7 separate regions of the Homo sapiens genome follow, and regions 2, 3, 4, 5, 6 and 7 are each reported to be linked to region 1. Evidence: microRNA targets listed by miRTarBase, many of them from high-throughput screens and not tested one by one. Region 1 holds a microRNA gene; each other region holds the end of a gene's coding sequence.
What was found. Region 1 holds the annotated microRNA hsa-miR-1277-5p (AAAUAUAUAUAUAUAUGUACGUAU, at 1,371-1,394, opposite strand). A microRNA usually pairs through its seed, bases 2 to 8, with sites in the 3' UTR of a target mRNA and lowers its output. Matches are read on the target gene's strand: a 7mer-m8 pairs with bases 2 to 8, a 7mer-A1 pairs with bases 2 to 7 and ends in A, and an 8mer does both.

Region 1 (3,437 bases):
GTACTATCAGAGTAAGGACTTCTTATAACTTCTGATTCCTAAAGACATCAGAATGTTGCTGCACTGAGCTTTTCAATACCCATAACTCCTGGTAGTAACCTCAAGAAGAGTTAGGGCTTATTCTGATAAAAATACAAGAACAAAAAATAAAAGCATTTTACAAAATATTGTCTCAAGGATAAATTACCAATTAGAATATGAAAAGGACTTCTAAAAAGACTGAAATGTCTTCAACCACAAATGTGACAGATTCATGAAACATTTGCTGAACATCAGCCATGTACAGAGCGCTATACTAAAAGAATATAAAAGCTGTTTGAAATATACCATATAAATATGATGTCTGCTATAAACTAATATTGACATTGTATCTTTCCAACCTTTTTAGACACATCTTGTTTCAATTCTTGTACAGGGGACTCATTTCCAACTTTGTATGCAGTGTTCTCTGTTTCCTGTTTGAAAAAGAAAAGAAATAGAGACCAAATGATGACATCTTTTCTTTAAAAATATGCTTTAAAGGGGTACAAATGAGAAAATGTAGCATTAATAAATCAAAGGCCCTTAAAGGGCTTTGATTTCTTCTTCTTCTTTTTTTTTTTTTTTTTTTTTTGAGACAGAGTTTTACTCTGTCACCCAGGCTGGAGTGCAGTGGCACAATCCTGGCTCACTGCAACCTCTGCTTCCCGGGTTCAAGTGATTCTCCTGCCTCAGCCTCCCGAGTAGCTGGGATTATAGGCGCGTGCCACCACACCTGGCTAATTTTTGTAATTTTAGTACAGACAGAGTTTCACCTTGTTGGCCAGGCTGGTCTTGAACTCCTGACCTCAAGTGATCTACCCACCTCAGCCTCCCAAAGTGCTGGGATTATAGGTGTGAGCCACTGTGCCCAGCCTAAAGGGCTTAGATTTCTGAATACTGATAGATGCTCAGAAATTTTATGCCAAATGGGACAATGTAATTTGCATAAGAAAGTTACCCATCAGCAATATTCTATTATTCTGCAATAGGATATTTACCTTTAAATGTGAAAACTTGCTCAACTTTTTAACATTAAAAAACTGTAATGGACGATAAGAACTTCTACGTACTTTTATAGCTAAAAAGGATTAAGGATTTAAGCAAGGGGCTGAATAAAAATTGTTATTTTCCCCAAAGCATTGCTCCATAAATATGCACAAATACAAAAGTTTATAACACAGAAAACCACATTCAGGGAATAGTTTTCTTAAAATTCTACATGCTTTAGATAAAAGAAATCAAGACTTAACCAGAAGTTAAATGAAGCCCCTAAAAAAACTATGAAAAAAGATGAAAAAAATTAAACCCACCAAAAATACATATATATCTACGTATACATTTATATACACATACGTACATATATATATATATTTGGGAGGTTAGAAATGGATACTGCATTTCTGCTGGAAAAAATTAGGGTAAAATAAGACAATCATATATTTGCAAATCTCAATACAATACTCTTCTCAATCTTAAGTTGTCTATTTATAGAAGCACAGCAATTTGAATGCTACTCTTGATACTGAGGAAAAAAAACCATAATTCTTTGTGCACATCACAGAGTTTGTTAGAGGAAGGTCATTATAACCATTTTAGACAGATAAAGGACTCAAGGCACATTAATTATTTAGGTGGCACTTATACAAGTATCAGGATATGATCACAATAGGCTCAATAATGAAATTACTCCAGAGATTATTAAAATGTTAAAGATTTAACGTGCCAGTGAAATTTCTGTAGGACTTGCAATATCTTCGAGCACTGAATTCCTCCCCCAGAATTTGGAGAATACTACCAATCTTACACAGATTCTTCTAGAAAAAAAAAAATGTTTCATGGACTCTTAAGTATTAGATAAAATCCAAACAGTACCAAGGCCCATGAAGGCCTAAACATGACATAGCCTCTGCCTACATTTTTGATATCTTCTACACTCCTCATCTCCCTCTCATATCACTCCCCCACAATTACATTCTGGCCAATAGGATGATTCCTTGCCATTAGGGTCATAGCTCAAGTGCTATTTTATCAGAAAATACTTCCCTGACCATCTCAAAATAGCCTTAGCTGACTCCTTAACTTTCTATCACATTATCCTATTTTTCTTTTTTTTTTTAACTTTAAGTTCAGGGGTACATGTGCAGATTTGTTACACAGGTAAACTTGTGTCATGGGGTTTTGTTGCACAGATTATTTCATCACCCAGGTATTAAGCCTAGTACACATTAGTCATTTTTCCTGATCCTCTCCCTCCTCCCACCCTTCACCCTCTGATAGGCCTCAACATGTGTTGTTCCCCTCTATGGGTTCATGTGTCCACATCATTTAGCTCCCACCTATAAGTGAGAACATGCAGTATTTGGTTTTCTGTTCCTGCATTGATTTGCTAAGGATAATGGCCTCCAGCTCCATCCATGGCCCTGCAAAGGACATGATCTCGTTCTTTTTTATGGCTGCATAGTATTCCATGGTGTATATGTACTACATTTTCTTTATCCAGTCTATCATTGATGGGCATTTAGGTTGATTTCATGTCTTTGCTATTGTGAATAGTGCTGCAATGAACATGTGTGTGCATGTGTCTTTATAATAGAATGATTTATATTCCTTTGGGTATATACCCAGTAATGGGATTGAGGAGAGGATGTCAAACTATCCCTGTTTGCAGACAACATGATCTTATATCTAGATAACCCATAGTCTCAGCCCAAAAGATTCTTAAGCTGATAAACAACTTCAACAAAGTCTCAGGATACAAAATAAATGTGCAAAAATCACTAGCATTATTATACACTAATAACAGCCAAGCAGAGAGCCAAATCAGGAATAAACTCCCATCATTTGCAATTGCCACGAAAAGAAAATACCTATGAATACAGCTAACTAGGGAGGTGAAAGGAGAACTACAAACCACTGCTCAAAGAAACCAGAGATGACACAAACAAATGGAAAAACATTCCAAGCTCATGGATAGGAAGAATCAATATCGTTAAAATGGCCACACTGCCCAAGGCAATGTATAGACTTAATGCCATTACTATTAAACTACCACTGAGATTCTTCACAGAACTAGGAAATTTTATTTTAAAATTCATAGGGAACCAAAAAAGAGCCTGAATAGCCAAGGCAAATCCTAAGCAAAAAGAACAAAGCTGGAGGCATCATGCTACCCGACTTCAAACTATGCTACAGTGCTACAGTTACCAAACAGCATGGTACTGGTACAAAAAGAGACACACAGACCAATAGAACAGAATAGAGAATACAGAAATAAGACCGCACACCTACAACTATCTGATCTTCGACAAACCTGATGAAAACAAAGAATGGGGAAAGGCTTCCCTACTCAATAAATGGTGCTGGGAAAACATTATCCTATTTTCCTTCATTGCACTTATCGTTCGAAATGACCTTAT
Region 2 (3,437 bases), not on the chromosome of region 1:
CAGAGTGACTTCCTACAGAGTGGGGCTCCACTGCAGCATGTTAGCTAAGCCTTTCTCTCCTCATTAAGCCACAAGAGAAAGCTTCTTAATGTAGTTAAGTGGTTTTCCTCGAAAGAAAAGAACTGGGATTAATACTCTTTTACATTAACCTCTCTTGCTTCAGCAGAGAAGGGAATTAAGAAGTCTATCTTATCAATGGAACTGAAACTTTTCAAAACAATTGCTTATATGACTGATATAAATTATATCAAAGTTTGAATATAAAAACATATGCAAGAGCATAATATGATTTGTTTAAAGCTGGATGGAATGAGTTATGTTTTGAGAACTGATTTCTCCCTTCAGCTGTGAGGGAGTTATTTGCAGAATTGAAAGAAGAGTGCTTTGAGATGCAGGTGAATGTTTTCAGAGCTGAGTGTTTGACAGCTAGAGTGAGAAAACTGTACATATAAAATATATCTTACCTTTAGTATTGCTTAAAATAGAATGTTGTATTACAGTTGTGACAAAATAAATAGCCCTTCAGGACAACTATTTCACAAATGCATAATTCATTTCAATTCCCACCTTCTTTTTCTTTGCTTTTAGCCATTGCCTAGAATACTTCAAGTCTTTCAATTTTAACACACTGCTTGGAGAAGAGTGGAAACAACCGGAATCAGACCTGTGGCTAATAGAGAAATGTGATATATAGGAGTAATAGATAACCATACCGATCATTTTTTCCTCTATACCTTTTAAGATAAACAAAAAATAAATATCAATTTTTTAAGATGTCATGCATACATTTCAACAACAAATATCTTCATAGAAGTCACTGAAAATATAGTATCTGTGGCAAATTGTATATGATTAACAAGAAAATATATGATTCTTTGTAGATGATTTCATCTGTAAAGTCACAATGTTTCTCAGAGTCACTTAGTCCAGGATGTTGCATTCCCAGCACACAGTACAGTTATTCTTGAAAACTACAAGTGAAAAAGGGGGAACAATTGAGGTTGTCCAAGGCCACCTAGAGGACTGTCTTGCACTACCTTGTGATTCAACCATTTCATTCCTAGATATATACCCCAGAAAAATGACTGCTCATAGCAGCTTTATTCATAATAGCACAAAATTGTAAACAGTGAAATTTCCATCCATAGGAAAATGGATAGACAAACTACAATATAGTCAGTGGAATACTGTTCATTTAAAAAAGGACTGCTGATACATGCAACAACCTGTATGAATCTCAAAAACATTAAGTTGAGCAAAACAAACCAAACATAACATACTATCTAATTACTTTTATATTAAAGCCACTTCCAGGCAAAACTAATATTTGATGATAGATACCAGAACAGTGGCTGCTTAGAGTGAGGGCAGGGAATTCAAATTGAATGGAAAAGGGGCCTGAGGAAATTTTCCGGGGTGATTGAAATGTTTTGTATTTTGATCTGGATGATGGTTATGTAGCTGCATATATTTGTCAACATTCCTCATGCTGTATGTTTAGATTTGTGATTTTACTATATGTAAATTAATTCCTTAATAAAATACTATTATAAAATAAGCTGTAAATTAAATGGAATTAACTTCAAGTTTACATTGAGTTTATATGTTTCCATTGAACAATCACTAGTGATGGTTAAATGTGGCTTATCGACTTACTCATTTCTTATATATGTTCTCTATCTAAAAAGAGAGCTGGTGTAAGATAAATGCTAACTTTTACAAAAGGTATTATTAAGTATCCTGACTACACATCATGGTGGCAGTGTTAGGCATCTTAGATAAATTGAGAAATTATTCTTAAAACTGACAATAGCAACTAATTAATTTGATATAGAAACGATCTGCCTGTTTTAGATACGAATGGCATATTTTAAATAACCTAGGACGATTTATTTATAAATTACCTGAATAATTTTATAAATGCATATAAAACTATCAAAATAAAAACAAGATATATTTTAGAGCATCTTGATTTTAGAAGCGAATCGAACACTGTGAATCACAGTTTCAGATATAAATCATAACTATTTATAATATGGATAAAAATGAAGCACAAATATGATAGATACAATCACAACAATATAAAATACTGAATTTGAATGTTGTAGCTTGTGAGCTTTCTCAAATCTAATGTGTATCTTTTTAAAATTTGTTTAGATGTTTTTTAAACATCTCTTAACTTTCTTTCATCTAGATAAGGCATTTCCTTTTCTTCCAATACCAAGCAAGCAAAAATACATTATATAAACATTTTCTTTTGAAAGGAACATGCATATCAACTACAGAATTTCGGAAAGCTTGTCCATTAGTCAGGTACAAATGATATATTCTAGAAACTTGTATCCAAGAAACTTTTATTTGAGAGTGGGTGTTTGTAATAGCCATTTCAAATTTGTTTTTCAACTTCAGGACCATGAAAGAATAATCATCCTTTTGTTTAAAATATGCATAAATGCATTTCTTTGCTGTGATTTGAATTGTTCACTGCAGTGTCAAGCAGATTCTCTCTTCTCACCACCTAAATAGATTACACAATGTGCATATTTATTCAGGTGCATTCTCATGCTTTTTCCCAGCTCCAGGAAAGTGTAAGTCACAGTCTGAAGGGAAATGTGCTTTTTATTTTTGGCTCCAAACTACTTTTTTTAAACGTTAAAAAGGTTTTTTGCCACAGGAAAAAAAACATTTAATTTCCCCTCCTTCTCCTCCTTTTGCTCCTTTTTTAAATGTTAGGCTTTTGGAGGACAGAAGATAATGAGCATAATTAATCTGATATTGAAAAAGAAAGGGTAGCAAGTGGATAAAGCAATTACAGTAAGCCCTCAGCCCTTTTCTCATGCCTCAAAGCTTAAGGATTGTCTCTTCTTTTCCATGTAAATTTCCATAATATTTTACACATTGCTTTATTACAGCATTTATTTCACTGGTCCTAGATAGCTCTTCTGACCCACCTCCTATCCTCTCAGCCTAACTTTTTACTCCAGCCATCAGTTGCATACAGTGAACTGACTGGCCAGTTGCCTCAGCTGTACTGTGTATGTCTTACTTCCTGCCCCTAGGGCTTCTCTGCTTCCTCTGCTGTGTGGAACACTTGCAGGAACCCATTTAGCCATTCTCTCACATGAACTACCCGGGATGTGTGAAGGGACTAAAACACCCCATGGGGCACCTCTTGACCAAAGAGGGTGGGAGTTGATGGATAACTACTTCTCTGTTACATCCCTCAGTTTAACAATTTATGGTCCCTTCCACACAGCTCCTCAGAAGTTCTCTTAAAAGGATTCCACCCTGATTACCCACAGCAGTGGCCAACTAGTAACACATTTTTGCATTATCTTTCCTTCATTTCCATCATTTTCTGTTTTGCTCTTCCTGGTACCTCTCTCCTCTCTGGAATTGCTTAACTACAGTCAACCTCTTTGGAAGTTATTGTCCTA
Region 3 (3,000 bases), not on the chromosome of region 1:
TTACCTCAGTTACTCTGCGTCACCGCACACAACATGACTAATGTCACATTGTCACTTTCCATTAAAAAAGAAAAAGACGGTGTTTCTTCTCAGAAGTTGCCCTACGAATTTTAGACATATAGCTTTAATTGATTCTATAAATATGTCTAAAATGTGGCTTTATTCTTCTCAGTTTGGAATGATCAACATACAAAATTGACATCAAGGAGGAGAGCTGTAAGTGTTCACCTTTACTCTTGAAGACAGGGTAAGGTACAAAAAAGGATCCTGGCCTTTCTCATTTCAAATGACTGCATTTCATTCCAATGAGCAGAGATTCTTCATAAACCTGTGATTTTAATGTCTTCTACCTAAAAAGATGAATTAATGGCAAACAAAAGTTTACACTATATAAACTAAATATAATGCAGAGTTGAAACTAAAGGGCTAAAATGACAAGGGCTAAAAAGGAGAAGATTTGTTACAAATTTATTTTTTATCACATTGTTCCAGCATTTTTAAAGTCAGTTGTTTCGTCTTTGGCAGCCTCTGCCAACTTTACAGTGAATCCCCATCAATGTTCTTTAAAAAAAAAAAAAAAAAAACTATTAATTCCATTAAACCATGTTGCGTCTGGTGTTGCATATGACTTTTTTTTTTTACTGCTTTTTTTTTTCTTTTTGGAATTAACAATGCCAGTTTTGTTTGTTTTTTTACAAAGTTACCGAGATGACAATATCCATAATTAGCTGACTCTTACGTACACACTGTGACCTGATCATCCTGAAAAACTTTATGGGGGAGAAAGGTCAGCAGCTTCTCTTTCTTTTTCTTGAAAATAATAAAACTGCGTATTCTACTTTATATTTAAATGTAAGGAAGAAAATATACAAGCCCATATTTATATTGTATTTCTATTAAGAGCAACAATAGTTCATATGTTCATGTTTGCTACTATCACAATTCAACATATGAACACAGATCAGCTCTATACCATGAATACTGCTGGAAGTGATGGTTTAGGATTACCAACTCACTGCTGCCATGACCAAAACAAGCAAATGCATCCTGGAAATAAACCTCCAAACACATATCTTTCAGTACGTAATAATGCAACTGCATTAGGTAAGTACATACTGTACACAAATTTTATCAGCAGTTTACCTACCCAAGATGTAAGATTCTTCATTTAAATACAAAGCAGAGAGCCAATAAGATATATATATATATATATATATATATATATATATAAAATACAGCCCTAGATTTTGTTTTTTTTGTTTTTTTTTCTTAAACAATTTGGTCACGATGCACCTTTGATATAAAAGCATTTTTAAACTTTATTATTAATACTCAGGACATTAGGAATTTCCAGATTTTTTTCAGTAGCATTTGTAGAACCACTTTTGGTAACAAATACAGTAGTTAGGAATATGCATCCAATTCAGAATGCATAATAATGTTTATCCTGAATCCTTTCCGGCTAAAAACAGGGCTGGCGCTGTGATGAGATATAGAACGAGAATCTACAAAAAACACTGTAACATGTTTGTTTTTTCCCAGAGGCTACATCCTCTTTTGCTGGAATACTTTATAAATACATATTAAAAAGTAAGGCAACAACTCCAAACAGTCCAAGCTGTTTGCTCAACTCTTTTCCCAATTAGATTTGCAATCCCGGTGATCAATTTCATGGTTGTATTGTTTAGTGTTTGTCTTTCTTATTTCAAATGGTCCAAAAGGATGTTTTTCTCACATTTCTAAAACATCTCTGGTATGTGTGTTCAATGATATATGCAACTAATACTGGTCAGGTACTGAAGCCTGTGATGTCCCAGTGCCTGTTTTCAAAGGATTCAAGACATTGATTTGGATTCACCATAAACTGATGCATGAATCCGATATTCCCTTCCCTACTATGTTTATCACCTCTTCTCTCTTAACTCCTAATTTTAAAACTAAAGGAGTACCAGGACTACCTGGTTACTGGAAAGATGTTCACCCCAGTAAACAAAACTTTTATCAGGGACTTTTATAATTCATGACCCCATTCCACGTGGACATTCAACTCAGGAAGATGTGCAAAAGAAAAAGATGTTAAATTACAGTCAAGTTATCCAGAGGAGGATGTTACACAAACTTATAAGGAAATGACAGTCTTTTTTTCTTCCTTTACTATAAATACATTTAACAGCTTAGCAGAAAGACAAGCTAAATTTAAGATTGTTCACATTTGAAAATTGTATCATACTCTCTGCTAGTGATAAATAAGGAACTCCCGATAATGGAATTTTAACATAGCAATTTCATCAACAGATCTTTGAAGACCGATTTTTTTTTTTAAAAGAGGGTGAGAACAATGATTATGTTTGCAAAGTTCTGAGAAGTCCATCTACTGTCCAAACTTTGGATTGAAGTCCTTATTTTGTTTTTTCCTTTACTTAGAGACAGGTATATACAGTGCTGCTGTAATAATGAAACAAAGGTGAAATCTACTGTAAAGTTGCACAATACAGAAAACTGTTGCTCCATCTTCTACTACATAAACGTGTGACTCCACAGGTTAGTAATGTTGTTGTCATTGTTTTTGTTAAGTTGGAATTATTCCATCACGTCTAAGACCTCTCTTTAACTCCAGATCCTCCAATTTTTTCCACAATTCTTCACGCTCCTTTTCTTTCTTTTTCTCACTGAGGAAGAAACAGAATACAATGTAAACAGCTGAGGTTTAATGAGATTATGCAACAATGAATATTTTACAATTTCACCTTAACACTCCTTTATACTTAGCTTAATTGAGAAAATTAACTTTAAAATTACTAAGAAACAAAAATGGGAATGACTTATATGCATCAGTTATTGTAAAATCAAGGGCATATTAGTGATTTTCACTTGCAGCTTAGTAAGAATCTTAATTTTTCTTTATCTCCAAATAGTTTCTCAAAAAGGATGCTGGAGATGACACTGATACAGAGAATATAGTAGGTCAAGAAAATATATCTGCTCCTTTATTCCTATTTT
Region 4 (3,437 bases), not on the chromosome of region 1:
ATACTGAAAATTTTAGAAGCTTGTATTTAATACCCTATACATTTCAAAATAATTAAACATTTTAAATATGTAAACATAGTTTTCAAAAAGTGATGCTGAGCACCTTTAAACACAATACTGATACATTGTGACTAAACATGCATTTAGATGACAATGAATTTTTAAAATCTAATTTAGAAACCATTTTTAAAGAGCTACTCCTTGAAATACTTACATGAAAATATTGATAGCTCCAGTTTCTACCTAAAAACCAAAAGAGTATATAATTAGGGATTTAAACTTTTCTTCATGCTCTTGGTTTTTGTGGGGTTTTGTTTTATTGGTTTGTTTGTGGGAAAGTTGCTCTGTAACTTTCTGATTAAAAAACAGTATCAGAAGAGACATTCACACAGAATCAAGTGAGAAAAATATTATTTTTCTAACTATACCAAAGTCTGAGTCCTCTGACACATCTCATCCTCACAGGTAACTGACTAGAGTTTGTATATTAACAAGCATTTCTCCTTTGCAAATCAACATCAAAAAAGAAAGGAATGTCTCCAAAAGAATGTAGTTCAATTGGTGAAACAGCTAATAATAAACCATTACCACTATTACCACTATTGAGACGTAACGATTTATTATTTAGAATCTTGAAAGAAAAGGATTCCATAAAAACTAGAAATAACAAAAGAATATTACCTATAGTGCAACACTAAACTATAAATTAATTTGGACTTATTCCTTTTATGTACACACAGATTAAGAGAAATCTGGATTTGAGGTAATTAAGTGCTGTGTTTAACTTAGTGTAACATAATTAAATTTGGCAACCTGCCTGTATAAAATGCCAACATCAAATGTTTTAAATTCATAGGAAAAAGTAAAGTAATTTTTATTAAAAATCATACATATAACTAAATATTAGCTTTGCATTAAAAAGGGTATAAATAATAAACTTTATATTAAATAAAATATAAATCTAAAGAGCAGGGAATATTAGAATTCCACCTACCTCTACTATAACAGTACTTTATATTTAGATACATGTCATGTACCTGAAACCAAGTCAATTAAGAATGGGAGGCTGGACTTAGAAAAGCCAAAAGTGACTCATATTCATGTAAAGTATTAAGGTTAAATTTGATATTATATTGTGCATGTTTTGAATATTAAACATTGATATCCATTTAAAATCTTTATTTTTAAAATATAAAATATACCCACAAATGGTCTCTGGAGAAACAAAAGCCTTTAGGTTAATTTCCTGACAATTATAGTTGATATTTCTAGTTTACCAATCTTTTTTTTTTTTTTGAGATGGAGTTTTTCTCTTGTCACCCAGGCTGGAGTGCAATGGCGCGATCTCGGCTCATTGCAACCTCCGCCTCCGGTGTTCAAGCGATTCTCCTGCCTTAGCCTCCCAAGTAGCTGGGATTACAGGTGCCCACCACCACACCCAGCTAATTTTTGTATTTTTAGTAGAAACAGGGTTTCACCACGTTGGCCAGGCTGGTCTCGAACTCCTGACCTCAGGTTATCTACCCACCTCAGCCTCCCAAAGTATTGTGATTACAGGTGTGAGCCACCATGTCCAGCCTAGTACCAATCTTTAGACAACAGATGCTTATAATCAATATACTGCTTAGTAGTAATTTGGTATTTGAAGTTAATATACTTACTTAACAAAAAAATCCCAGATCAGATGTTTTAAAGTTTTAAATATAAACTAAATTTTAAACTATAAATACTTACCTTAAAATACTAGAAATCCTAATATCATCAATTCAGTAAGAGCTCTGGCATAGAAAAATGTAACTACAAATCAAATTATTTTTTAACCAGTGCTGGATCTTCATTACAAAATAAGGGGGAAAAAATCCTCTGCTGTCATCAAAAAGTTTTCCAAATTATCTGTAAACACCAAGGAATTCTATTATTCTTTTTCAATTCTCTTAATTTCTACATCTTTCTGCCTATAGTGTTTTACTTCCAATATAGCACAAATCCATGCTACATATGTTGATTTCTGTTGCTTATCTGATTAATTCAAGTAAAAATTCTCAGTACTTACCAAGACACTTTAAATTTCTATTAGATAACCATTAGTATACTACTGGTTTGTAGTTAAAAGTACAAAAATTGGAAGGGAAGAGGCTAAAATGCAACTGCACAGTTTCCACAGATGTAGCTGCTGGACTTTGTGTTATGATGTAAAATCTAATACTTCATCTTTCTTAATGAGATAGATTATAAACATTTTCTTACCTGTCTGGCAATTAACAATTTCTTCACAACTTTAAGGAGAGAACAAGTTCTTTTTCAGAACTTAAAAAAAAAATTCATGATATACATACACACATACAAACATACATTCACACAATGTTTTTGTTGCTGTTGTTCTTTTCTGTTTTGTAATAACCAAAATTGAATATTTCCAAGGATAAGTTAAGTAAACTATTTGTGTTCAGACTATATTACTGTGGATAAATTCAGAACAGCTTTTGAAATACTGGCCTTATTAGATAATCAAAGAGCATAAAAATTATACAAAATAAGAAGAGTAAAACATCTCTTAAGGAAGGTAAAAATATGGAACTGGCAACAAATATATCAGTTTTAAATAAAAGCTTCTCATCAAACTGGTCTTCAGTCCAATTATCTCAATGCCACGCTTTGACTATATTCACCTTCCTTTCTAAGACATCAGAAGTCACCAGAGTTGTAAATTCTGAAAAGCTTCAATAATTTATGTAGCAGATAATTTCTTATAGTCCACAGTTTTTTTTGCTTCCATAGACAATGCTGGTTCTTTGGGTTCTTGTTTAACTTGGCTCACAGAAATGGTACTTTCTGGATTTTCTTCAACTTTAAAAACAAACAGAAAAATCCTAAAAGTTAATCTATTTCATGACACTGGAAGAGAGGGGAAAAATATTTTATATTCTAAAAATAACTTCTGTGAAAACTTTTGTTCTTCAAAGCAAACTGCAAATCTTTTCCCACAAAAGTGCCCAATCCAGAACAATTCATGTGCAAAGAAGTAACAGATAAAGTAGGAGTTAACAGAGTTTACTTCTATGTTGACAGAGATTAGTAATAAAGTGAAGGTAAGAAGGTCTTGGGCTAAACCTAAATGCCCAAGTCTTACTAGTTCCCTTTCAACTCAACATTTATTTTGTAATTCCAAATCTTCCTTTTGGCCAGGTGCAGTGGCTCACTGCGTGAGGAGTGGGAGGCTGAGGTGGGAGGATTGCTTGAGCCCAGGAGTTCAAGACCAGCCTGCGCAACAGGCTGGTTTAAAAAAAAAAAATTAAAGAATTTGCCCAGTATGGTGGCATGTGCCTGTGGTCCCAGCTACTTGGGAAGCTGAGGTGGGAAGATCGCTTGAACCAAGGAGGTCAAGGCTGCAGTGACCTGTGATTGCATCATTGTACTCCAGCCTGGGTGACAGAATG
Region 5 (3,437 bases), not on the chromosome of region 1:
AGAACTTTGTTCCTATAGCCTGCATCTGGCTCCTCCATGAATGTGTGTATTGATTGCCCCCATTTCCCTGCAGACGGTGTACAACCTGGCTGATGTGGCCTGCAAGTGCCATGGGGTGTCCGGCTCATGTAGCCTGAAGACATGCTGGCTGCAGCTGGCAGACTTCCGCAAGGTGGGTGATGCCCTGAAGGAGAAGTACGACAGCGCGGCGGCCATGCGGCTCAACAGCCGGGGCAAGTTGGTACAGGTCAACAGCCGCTTCAACTCGCCCACCACACAAGACCTGGTCTACATCGACCCCAGCCCTGACTACTGCGTGCGCAATGAGAGCACCGGCTCGCTGGGCACGCAGGGCCGCCTGTGCAACAAGACGTCGGAGGGCATGGATGGCTGCGAGCTCATGTGCTGCGGCCGTGGCTACGACCAGTTCAAGACCGTGCAGACGGAGCGCTGCCACTGCAAGTTCCACTGGTGCTGCTACGTCAAGTGCAAGAAGTGCACGGAGATCGTGGACCAGTTTGTGTGCAAGTAGTGGGTGCCACCCAGCACTCAGCCCCGCTCCCAGGACCCGCTTATTTATAGAAAGTACAGTGATTCTGGTTTTTGGTTTTTAGAAATATTTTTTATTTTTCCCCAAGAATTGCAACCGGAACCATTTTTTTTCCTGTTACCATCTAAGAACTCTGTGGTTTATTATTAATATTATAATTATTATTTGGCAATAATGGGGGTGGGAACCAAGAAAAATATTTATTTTGTGGATCTTTGAAAAGGTAATACAAGACTTCTTTTGATAGTATAGAATGAAGGGGAAATAACACATACCCTAACTTAGCTGTGTGGACATGGTACACATCCAGAAGGTAAAGAAATACATTTTCTTTTTCTCAAATATGCCATCATATGGGATGGGTAGGTTCCAGTTGAAAGAGGGTGGTAGAAATCTATTCACAATTCAGCTTCTATGACCAAAATGAGTTGTAAATTCTCTGGTGCAAGATAAAAGGTCTTGGGAAAACAAAACAAAACAAAACAAACCTCCCTTCCCCAGCAGGGCTGCTAGCTTGCTTTCTGCATTTTCAAAATGATAATTTACAATGGAAGGACAAGAATGTCATATTCTCAAGGAAAAAAGGTATATCACATGTCTCATTCTCCTCAAATATTCCATTTGCAGACAGACCGTCATATTCTAATAGCTCATGAAATTTGGGCAGCAGGGAGGAAAGTCCCCAGAAATTAAAAAATTTAAAACTCTTATGTCAAGATGTTGATTTGAAGCTGTTATAAGAATTAGGATTCCAGATTGTAAAAAGATCCCCAAATGATTCTGGACACTAGATTTTTTTGTTTGGGGAGGTTGGCTTGAACATAAATGAAAATATCCTGTTATTTTCTTAGGGATACTTGGTTAGTAAATTATAATAGTAAAAATAATACATGAATCCCATTCACAGGTTCTCAGCCCAAGCAACAAGGTAATTGCGTGCCATTCAGCACTGCACCAGAGCAGACAACCTATTTGAGGAAAAACAGTGAAATCCACCTTCCTCTTCACACTGAGCCCTCTCTGATTCCTCCGTGTTGTGATGTGATGCTGGCCACGTTTCCAAACGGCAGCTCCACTGGGTCCCCTTTGGTTGTAGGACAGGAAATGAAACATTAGGAGCTCTGCTTGGAAAACAGTTCACTACTTAGGGATTTTTGTTTCCTAAAACTTTTATTTTGAGGAGCAGTAGTTTTCTATGTTTTAATGACAGAACTTGGCTAATGGAATTCACAGAGGTGTTGCAGCGTATCACTGTTATGATCCTGTGTTTAGATTATCCACTCATGCTTCTCCTATTGTACTGCAGGTGTACCTTAAAACTGTTCCCAGTGTACTTGAACAGTTGCATTTATAAGGGGGGAAATGTGGTTTAATGGTGCCTGATATCTCAAAGTCTTTTGTACATAACATATATATATATATACATATATATAAATATAAATATAAATATATCTCATTGCAGCCAGTGATTTAGATTTACAGTTTACTCTGGGGTTATTTCTCTGTCTAGAGCATTGTTGTCCTTCACTGCAGTCCAGTTGGGATTATTCCAAAAGTTTTTTGAGTCTTGAGCTTGGGCTGTGGCCCTGCTGTGATCATACCTTGAGCACGACGAAGCAACCTTGTTTCTGAGGAAGCTTGAGTTCTGACTCACTGAAATGCGTGTTGGGTTGAAGATATCTTTTTTCTTTTCTGCCTCACCCCTTTGTCTCCAACCTCCATTTCTGTTCACTTTGTGGAGAGGGCATTACTTGTTCGTTATAGACATGGACGTTAAGAGATATTCAAAACTCAGAAGCATCAGCAATGTTTCTCTTTTCTTAGTTCATTCTGCAGAATGGAAACCCATGCCTATTAGAAATGACAGTACTTATTAATTGAGTCCCTAAGGAATATTCAGCCCACTACATAGATAGCTTTTTTTTTTTTTTTTTTAATAAGGACACCTCTTTCCAAACAGTGCCATCAAATATGTTCTTATCTCAGACTTACGTTGTTTTAAAAGTTTGGAAAGATACACATCTTTCATACCCCCCTTAGGCAGGTTGGCTTTCATATCACCTCAGCCAACTGTGGCTCTTAATTTATTGCATAATGATATTCACATCCCCTCAGTTGCAGTGAATTGTGAGCAAAAGATCTTGAAAGCAAAAAGCACTAATTAGTTTAAAATGTCACTTTTTTGGTTTTTATTATACAAAAACCATGAAGTACTTTTTTTATTTGCTAAATCAGATTGTTCCTTTTTAGTGACTCATGTTTATGAAGAGAGTTGAGTTTAACAATCCTAGCTTTTAAAAGAAACTATTTAATGTAAAATATTCTACATGTCATTCAGATATTATGTATATCTTCTAGCCTTTATTCTGTACTTTTAATGTACATATTTCTGTCTTGCGTGATTTGTATATTTCACTGGTTTAAAAAACAAACATCGAAAGGCTTATGCCAAATGGAAGATAGAATATAAAATAAAACGTTACTTGTATATTGGTAAGTGGTTTCAATTGTCCTTCAGATAATTCATGTGGAGATTTTTGGAGAAACCATGACGGATAGTTTAGGATGACTACATGTCAAAGTAATAAAAGAGTGGTGAATTTTACCAAAACCAAGCTATTTGGAAGCTTCAAAAGGTTTCTATATGTAATGGAACAAAAGGGGAATTCTCTTTTCCTATATATGTTCCTTACAAAAAAAAAAAAAAAAGAAATCAAGCAGATGGCTTAAAGCTGGTTATAGGATTGCTCACATTCTTTTAGCATTATGCATGTAACTTAATTGTTTTAGAGCGTGTTGCTGTTGTAACATCCCAGAGAAGAATGAAAAGGCACATGCTTTTATCCGTGACCAGATTTTTAGTCCAAAAAAATGTATTTTTTTGTGT
Region 6 (3,437 bases), not on the chromosome of region 1:
TCATGTTATGTTTTATTAGCAATGAATTGTCACAATATTCCTAATTAGTGAAGGCTGAGGCAAAGCATACTGCCACTATAATACCATAGAGAGGTGGTAATAATGTGATGCTGTTTACACATGCAGTTCACATTATTGTACTTCATTGAAAAAAATGTGTACAATCTTTTGATTATTAGGGAATTTGTATGTAGTATGTGAAAGAGATGGTACTATCACAACAGAAATTGCAAGAGTAAAATCTTTACTTTGAAATTTTTTTCTTACAGAGAGATTTAGAGACTCATAGTTGCATGGAGTGTGGTTATAAGATCTTAGTTCTAGGTCCTAGCCAGTCCTTGGCAAATTCCAAGGCTTACTGAGTCTGTTTCCTCATCTGTAGAATGAATATAATAATAATTATAATGACAGTAATACTAAAATTATCATCACCATCGTTATTATATGGGTTATATATATAATTTATTATTATTATGATTGTCGATAGGATCAAATGAAAAAACAGATGTAAAAGGACTTTGTAAATCATCAAGTGCTACAAATGTTAGTATTAGCATTTTGCCTTTCCTGTAAATTACTTATTTTTACAAGAAGAAGTGAATTCTCATGTTACTATAGGATTTAGAGTTGATGATGTGTAAAGCAAACTCAAAGCAACATTTCTCAGCAGTGTGGAATACTTCTAAAGTTGCATTATTGTTGAATACATAGAGAACCTATCTTCAGTAGGCAAGGCTATTCCTTCATACAGAAAAAATATATAAAGACCATCTGACACACTGTTGATGGACACTTTTAAGTGTAAGAAATTAATTAAGATAATATTTGGCTGTAATACTTTGCATTTGAAATTTTGTAGACAATTCATTTTCAAGAGGATGTGATATTTTTGGGAGATTACCTATACTGAACAATAGTGGATGTTAGAATTATTTTGCAAATTTAACTTTATAATATCATATTCTATAAAAGTTCTGCATATTAATTATAGGAATTGGTTTTTCTAATTTGATCATTTAAGCGTAGAAAGATTTGTTTGGAAATTGTGAAATGTCTTTATACTATATTTTGTGTATTCTAAAAGACAAAATAACTCAAGAAAAGTTCATCTGCTTTCAACATTAAACCGAAAATTCAAATTTACTTGTGATTTATTTTAAGTGAGATCAGGAATGGACTACTTTGTGACAAAAATTGTTTCTCTTTACTTACCTGCACCTCCCAGATGACTTTAAAGATAATGTTTCTTCACATAGGGAGCTGTTACACGTTTCAAATAGAGCCCAGAGACAAGACTCCATGCATGACCAAATCATTACATATTTCTCTATTATAGAGTCATTGGTCTATGAGAGGATATAATTCTCTTTAGGACTATAGAGCAAATTAAATCAGTTTATTTTTAACCCCTGTTGTCCCTTATTTTCTAATTCTCATAGTTAAAAAAGTTACTTTAATGGATACAGATTTAATAAGGAAGAAATAGAGTTTGTTAGCATTATGATTCTTTTGTGATCTATGACAAAGTAGCTTACATTTTCCTGTGGAGTAAAAAAAAATTGAAATGGATAATCTGCTATGGTATATGAAAGAATGGTACAATAAATTGTCCTGAATGTACTTATCCTGTAAATAGGCAATGGTAGATAATTTAGCTCAATCTTAAAGATGAATTAAAAACGTATAGACTTAGAAAAAATTTTACTTCCCTACAAAATTTTTGCTAATTAAATCTCTACTTGTCTATTTCATCCTGTTCCAGGCACAGTCATTTCCTCTTGGTCTTTCGTCTGTCTAATCTAAAAATATGAAAGTATTTTGCCTATAACTAATTACATAAAAATCTCAGTTCTATTCATAACTTCATATGACTGCTATGCTGTAACTATCTTATTTCTGGAATAAAATAAAAAGCAGGTAACCTTAACCAAATGGCAAGTTTACTTTTTTCTAAATTCTTATATTTCTACATTACAATTGTATTGAATATTATATATTAGATCCTCCTCCTCCACAATAAAAATCAAATGGCAATTAAAAAAAGATAAACAATAAGAATACTTAATAGGTTTGATGGTCTCTTTTAAGACAGAGGCATGCTAATTTTCAAGCAAAAATGACAGAGACTTATAGCTTAAGTAGAATTCAGATAATTATTCAGACCCAATATTAAAAAATACTGACAATGTGAATTTATAAGTACACATTAACAGTCTCCTCTTTTTATTGAAAACAGTTTGCATTATTTGTAGTGAAACAAAAATCATGCCTTGATGAATGTAATTTTAATATATCCATCTCTTATTAAACAAATTATACATTTAATTCTTGGCACCTATATTTAATATCTTTTATACTAACAAAGATTACATACACGCATTGAAGGAAGACTACACACTCATGTCTAAGCCTCTCTCATCAGTTAAGAAATATACCCTATATTGAAAAATGCATGTATTTGAAGTTTTGACCTAACACAGTGGATTAAAGCTTAGACAATATTTACTTTGCCGCACTTTGATTCAGAAAGGGCCATATGTGAAGATATGATCCTAACCAACTTTAACATGTTTCTATAATGATCTCTCAGTAAAAAGATTTATATTAAAGATATTGAGATATAAAATAGTTACAAAATAAGCTGTAACCTTATAGCTACCCATTGGTAAAAGTCTATAGTTAATATATTTGGATAAATAACTCAAGTCAGCAGCAAAGTGGTTAAACATTTGTGATTTGATTTTATCTCAGCTTGGAATGTGGTTGGAGTGTCCCACTTCTAACAACTGTTTGCTAAGTTAAGGCTTTGGTGTTTACACAGTGTTGAATGAAGCAGCCTGGTCACCAGATGTGATCGCTTCCCCAGACTGTCGTTTTTTTTCAATCAGATCACTGTCCTCATGGTCCCGGTTCCAACCTTCTTCCTCAGTACATCCACCAGCCTTTCCAACCTAAGTTGGGGTTGGGATGGGGGTGAGAAGGGGAAAAAAAGGGCAATTATTGTTAAGAATGTCCTGGCTGATAAAGGACAGTATTTGCCTGTGACCAAGCAGTCCTCACGGTCATGTTAAGAAACAAAGCATTACTGTGAGAGACACTGCTACAGAGTGCCAAGTATTTGAGGTTAAAAAACCCAGCAACGACACAAACTTTAACCCAGATCCTTGAATTATGTCAGCATTAGATGCCACACAAAATTTATAGGACACTTATTTCAATACATTTAGCTACTTGCATTAAGGTTGTGAATGAATCATTTACTATGCAATGACAGGATCACATATTAAATGTAGAATAAACTGATTTTACCTAAGAAAAGCACATATTTCAAAACACAAATATCAGCAATGTTTCACCTGTTACTTAGATAAGTGATTCATTGGTTGGTATACTGTGTAACTTCTATGTACTAAATTCCCATCTTTTCATAGAATCAG
Region 7 (3,437 bases), not on the chromosome of region 1:
TGGGCAGCAGGCTATGGGATCTGGAACACTGCAATCCAGTCAGCCATCAGAGTGCAGCACTGGAAATTGCTTACAGGAAATCCTGGCTACAGCGACTGGGTCCCCCCTCAGTCTTTCAGCAACCTGGGACCGAACCGGTGGCACAATGAACGGATCACCTTGTCAACTGGCAAAAGTGTATGGCTTTTCAACATCACAGCCGACCCATATGAGAGGGTGGACCTATCTAACAGGTATCCAGGAATCGTGAAGAAGCTCCTACGGAGGCTCTCACAGTTCAACAAAACTGCAGTGCCGGTCAGGTATCCCCCCAAAGACCCCAGAAGTAACCCTAGGCTCAATGGAGGGGTCTGGGGACCATGGTATAAAGAGGAAACCAAGAAAAAGAAGCCAAGCAAAAATCAGGCTGAGAAAAAGCAAAAGAAAAGCAAAAAAAAGAAGAAGAAACAGCAGAAAGCAGTCTCAGGTTCAACTTGCCATTCAGGTGTTACTTGTGGATAAGCACAAATATTTCCTGTTTGGTTAAACTTTAATCAGTTCTTATCTTTCATCTGTTTCCTAGGTAAACCAGCAAATTTGGCTCGATAATATCGCTGGCCTAAGCGTCAGGCTTGTTTTCATGCTGTGCCACTCCAGAGACTTCTGCCACCTGGCCGCCACACTGAAAACTGTCCTGCTCAGTGCCAAGGTGCTACTCTTGCAAGCCACACTTAGAGAGAGTGGAGATGTTTATTTCTCTTGCTCCTTTAGAAAACGTGGTGAGTCCTGAGTTCCACTGCTGTGCTTCAGTCAACTGACCAAACACTGCTTTGAATTATAGGAGGAGAACAATAACCTACCATCCGCAAGCATGCTAATTTGATGGAAGTTACAGGGTATACCATCCGCAAGCATGCTAATTTGATGGAAGTTACAGGGTAGCATGATTAAAACTACCTTTGATAAATTACAGTCAAAGATTGTGTCACCTCAAAGGCCTTGAAGAATATATTTTCTTGGTGAATTTTTGTATGTCTGTCATATGACACTTGGGTTTTTTAATTAATTCTATTTTATATATATATATATGTTTCTTTTCCTGTGAAAAGCTGTTTTTCTCACATGTGAACAGCTTGCACCTCATTTTACCATGCGTGAGGGAATGGCAAATAAGAATGTTTGAGCACACTGCCCACAATGAATGTAACTATTTTCTAAACACTTTACTAGAAGAACATTTCAGTATAAAAAACCTAATTTATTTTTACAGAAAAATATTTTGTTGTTTTTATAAAAAGTTATGCAAATGACTTTATTTTATTTTTATTTCCTGCATACCATTAGAATAATTTTATTTCATTTCTTCAAATTACCAAGCACTGTAATACTATAAATTAATGTAATACTGTGTGAATTCAGACTATAAAAAACATCATTCAGAAAACTTTATAATCGTCATTGTTCAACCAAGATTTTGAATGTAATAAGATGAATATATTCCTTACAAATTACTTGGAAATTCAATGTTTGTGCAGAGTTGAGACAACTTTATTGTTTCTATCATAAACTATTTATGTATCTTAATTATTAAAATGATTTACTTTATGGCACTAGAAAATTTACTGTGGCTTTTCTGATCTAACTTCTAGCTAAAATTGTATCATTGGTCCTAAAAAATAAAAATCTTTACTAATAGGCAATTGAAGGAATGGTTTGCTAACAACCACAGTAATATAATATGATTTTACAGATAGATGCTTCCCCTTGGCTATGACATGGAGAAAGATTTTCCCATAATAATAACTAACATTTATATTAGGTTGGTGCAAAACTAGTTGCGGTTTTTCCCATTAAAAGTAATAAACTTACTCTTATACAAAGTGGACACTGTGGGGAGATACAGAGAAATGGAAGATACGGATCCTGCCTGGAGTAGGTAACCTTGCTTGGAAACCCCACATGCAAACGTCATGAGGAGAATTAAAGGAGTATTATCAGTAATGAAGTTTATCATGGGTCATCAATGAGCATAGATTGGTGTGGATCCTGTAGACCCTGGTGTTTTCTTTGAAGTGCCCTCTCCTAATGCAGAGGCCTTGAAGCTTACAGTATACACTTGAAAAGTCACAGATAGCTAGAATTATGATCTTTGAAGTTATAACTGTGATCTGAAAATGTGTGTGGTGGTATGACAGCATACCATTAAATACATTTACATCACAGCTCAAAGGACTGTGATATAATCCATTTATATCACAACTCAAAGGACTGTGATATAATCCATTTATATCACAGCTCACAGTTTCTGAAAATGTATAAAAGAATCTATAATCTAGTACTGAAATTACTAAATTGGGTAAGATGATTTAAATGATTTTAATTTTAACATTTTATTTCTAGAATATATGGCTCCATTTTATTTTATAGTGTAAAGTTGTATTTCCTAAAGTTTGTGTTTTGTCGACAGTATCTTTTAAATGAGTCTTAAAAATAAAGGCATATTGTTCATGTTTTTCTTTCCTGGTGGCACATAAATGACATGTCTTAAAATAGATGGCATCTTATACATTTTTTAAAAATAGACATCTTTACACTAAAAAAGAGTTCTGAAGAAAGTAAGTTTGGGAGATGCTGGGTTAAAGAACGTCAAAGGAGTCACTTTAATGCAGGTTTTTCTTTTAGAGGAGTTTTTAAAATCTTAGCTTGTATTGTAACCCTGACAGAAGGAAAATGTTATACAGTATTTCATAATTTCACCACAAAACTGCTGTCTGTGGCACAATGCACAGGACTAGGGTTCTGAGGAACTATACTGTTATTGGAAACATAGTGTAAACATAGAATCTTCTAGAAGTTCCTAGAAAGACAAAAAAAGAAGCAAAGAGGCAAATTAGGATTAAGAAATACCAGTAGGCATCACCTATTGTGATGTAATTCTAAGTTCTCTATAAATGATTATAATCTTCTCAGTGAAAATAATTTAGCCCACAGTGTTCTACTGGAAATGGCTTCATGGATGTTGATCACTGTTTTAGAGAGTACCTGCCACCTGCCCAGGGCTCTAGGCAGGATGTGGTTTACAAGAAGTCTCAGTGTCTTGCCCTCAAGAAATTAAAATATAATCTAATAGTCATGTATAAGTCATGAACAAAAATGTTTCTAAAAATGCTGGCAGCAAATCACTAGGGATTTCAAGATGGCCAGGAAGGAAAACACTGTGTCCTTGAGTTTTGTGCCCTAATCACTGATGCCATGTTAATATGAGGAATTCATTCTCAGGTGTTAGCTTCCTAAACTGTGATCTTCAGGATGTGTTTCTAGGCTGCCTGTGGTTCTTTCAAGTGTCAACTGCACCTCTTTTAAACCTCTGATCTTTCTTAGGGTTTCAAAAGAAACTCTCATTAGCTTTGTCAGAAAATAATTTTTGAATATGGCTATGTTTCTGGGTTGAGAAGGGA

Region 2: miRTarBase lists C4orf33 as a target of hsa-miR-1277-5p. Seed matches in the 3' UTR shown: 7mer-A1 at 1,295-1,301, 7mer-m8 at 1,466-1,472, 7mer-m8 at 1,952-1,958 and 7mer-m8 at 2,323-2,329.
Region 3: miRTarBase lists PPP2R5E as a target of hsa-miR-1277-5p. The part of its 3' UTR that is shown has no 7-base or 8-base seed match.
Region 4: the mRNA of CARF is a reported target of hsa-miR-1277-5p. Seed matches in the 3' UTR shown: 7mer-m8 at 2,587-2,593 and 7mer-A1 at 1,650-1,656.
Region 5: miRTarBase lists WNT5A as a target of hsa-miR-1277-5p. The part of its 3' UTR that is shown has no 7-base or 8-base seed match.
Region 6: the mRNA of MIPOL1 is a reported target of hsa-miR-1277-5p. Seed matches in the 3' UTR shown: 8mer at 2,681-2,688, 8mer at 2,287-2,294 and 7mer-m8 at 756-762.
Region 7: miRTarBase lists ARSJ as a target of hsa-miR-1277-5p. Seed matches in the 3' UTR shown: 7mer-m8 at 986-992, 7mer-m8 at 1,472-1,478 and 7mer-A1 at 1,791-1,797.

Annotation. Positions count from the first base shown.
Region 1 is chrX:118,384,358-118,387,794 of GRCh38, reverse strand. It overlaps MIR1277 (microRNA 1277), which reads right to left and starts at 1,401; the gene lies at 1,324-1,401. WDR44 (WD repeat domain 44) reads right to left here. Exons shown (of 20, transcript NM_019045.5): 3 at 381-455.
Region 2 is chr4:129,111,098-129,114,534 of GRCh38, forward strand. C4orf33 (chromosome 4 open reading frame 33) reads left to right here. Exons shown (of 6, transcript NM_001099783.2): 6 at 589-3,437. The coding sequence ends at 694. Among named protein-coding and RNA genes, the nearest start is that of C4orf33, 17 kb to the left of the region's middle.
Region 3 is chr14:63,373,440-63,376,439 of GRCh38, forward strand. PPP2R5E (protein phosphatase 2 regulatory subunit B'epsilon) reads right to left here. Exons shown (of 14, transcript NM_006246.5): 14 at 1-2,669. The coding sequence ends at 2,570. Among named protein-coding and RNA genes, the nearest start is that of GPHB5, 56 kb to the left of the region's middle.
Region 4 is chr2:202,982,916-202,986,352 of GRCh38, reverse strand. It overlaps CARF (calcium responsive transcription factor), which reads right to left. Exons shown (of 17, transcript NM_024744.17): 17 at 1-2,847. The coding sequence ends at 2,729. Among named protein-coding and RNA genes, the nearest start is that of NBEAL1, 30 kb to the left of the region's middle.
Region 5 is chr3:55,467,187-55,470,623 of GRCh38, reverse strand. It overlaps WNT5A (Wnt family member 5A), which reads left to right. Exons shown (of 5, transcript NM_003392.7): 5 at 74-3,437. The coding sequence ends at 532. Among named protein-coding and RNA genes, the nearest start is that of WNT5A, 18 kb to the left of the region's middle.
Region 6 is chr14:37,546,419-37,549,855 of GRCh38, reverse strand. MIPOL1 (mirror-image polydactyly 1) reads right to left here. Exons shown (of 13, transcript NM_001388067.1): 13 at 1-2,951. The coding sequence ends at 2,885. Among named protein-coding and RNA genes, the nearest start is that of FOXA1, 47 kb to the left of the region's middle. RefSeq lists a silencer at 2,718-3,012.
Region 7 is chr4:113,899,338-113,902,774 of GRCh38, reverse strand. ARSJ (arylsulfatase family member J) reads left to right here. Exons shown (of 2, transcript NM_024590.4): 2 at 1-2,491. The coding sequence ends at 501. Among named protein-coding and RNA genes, the nearest start is that of ARSJ, 79 kb to the left of the region's middle.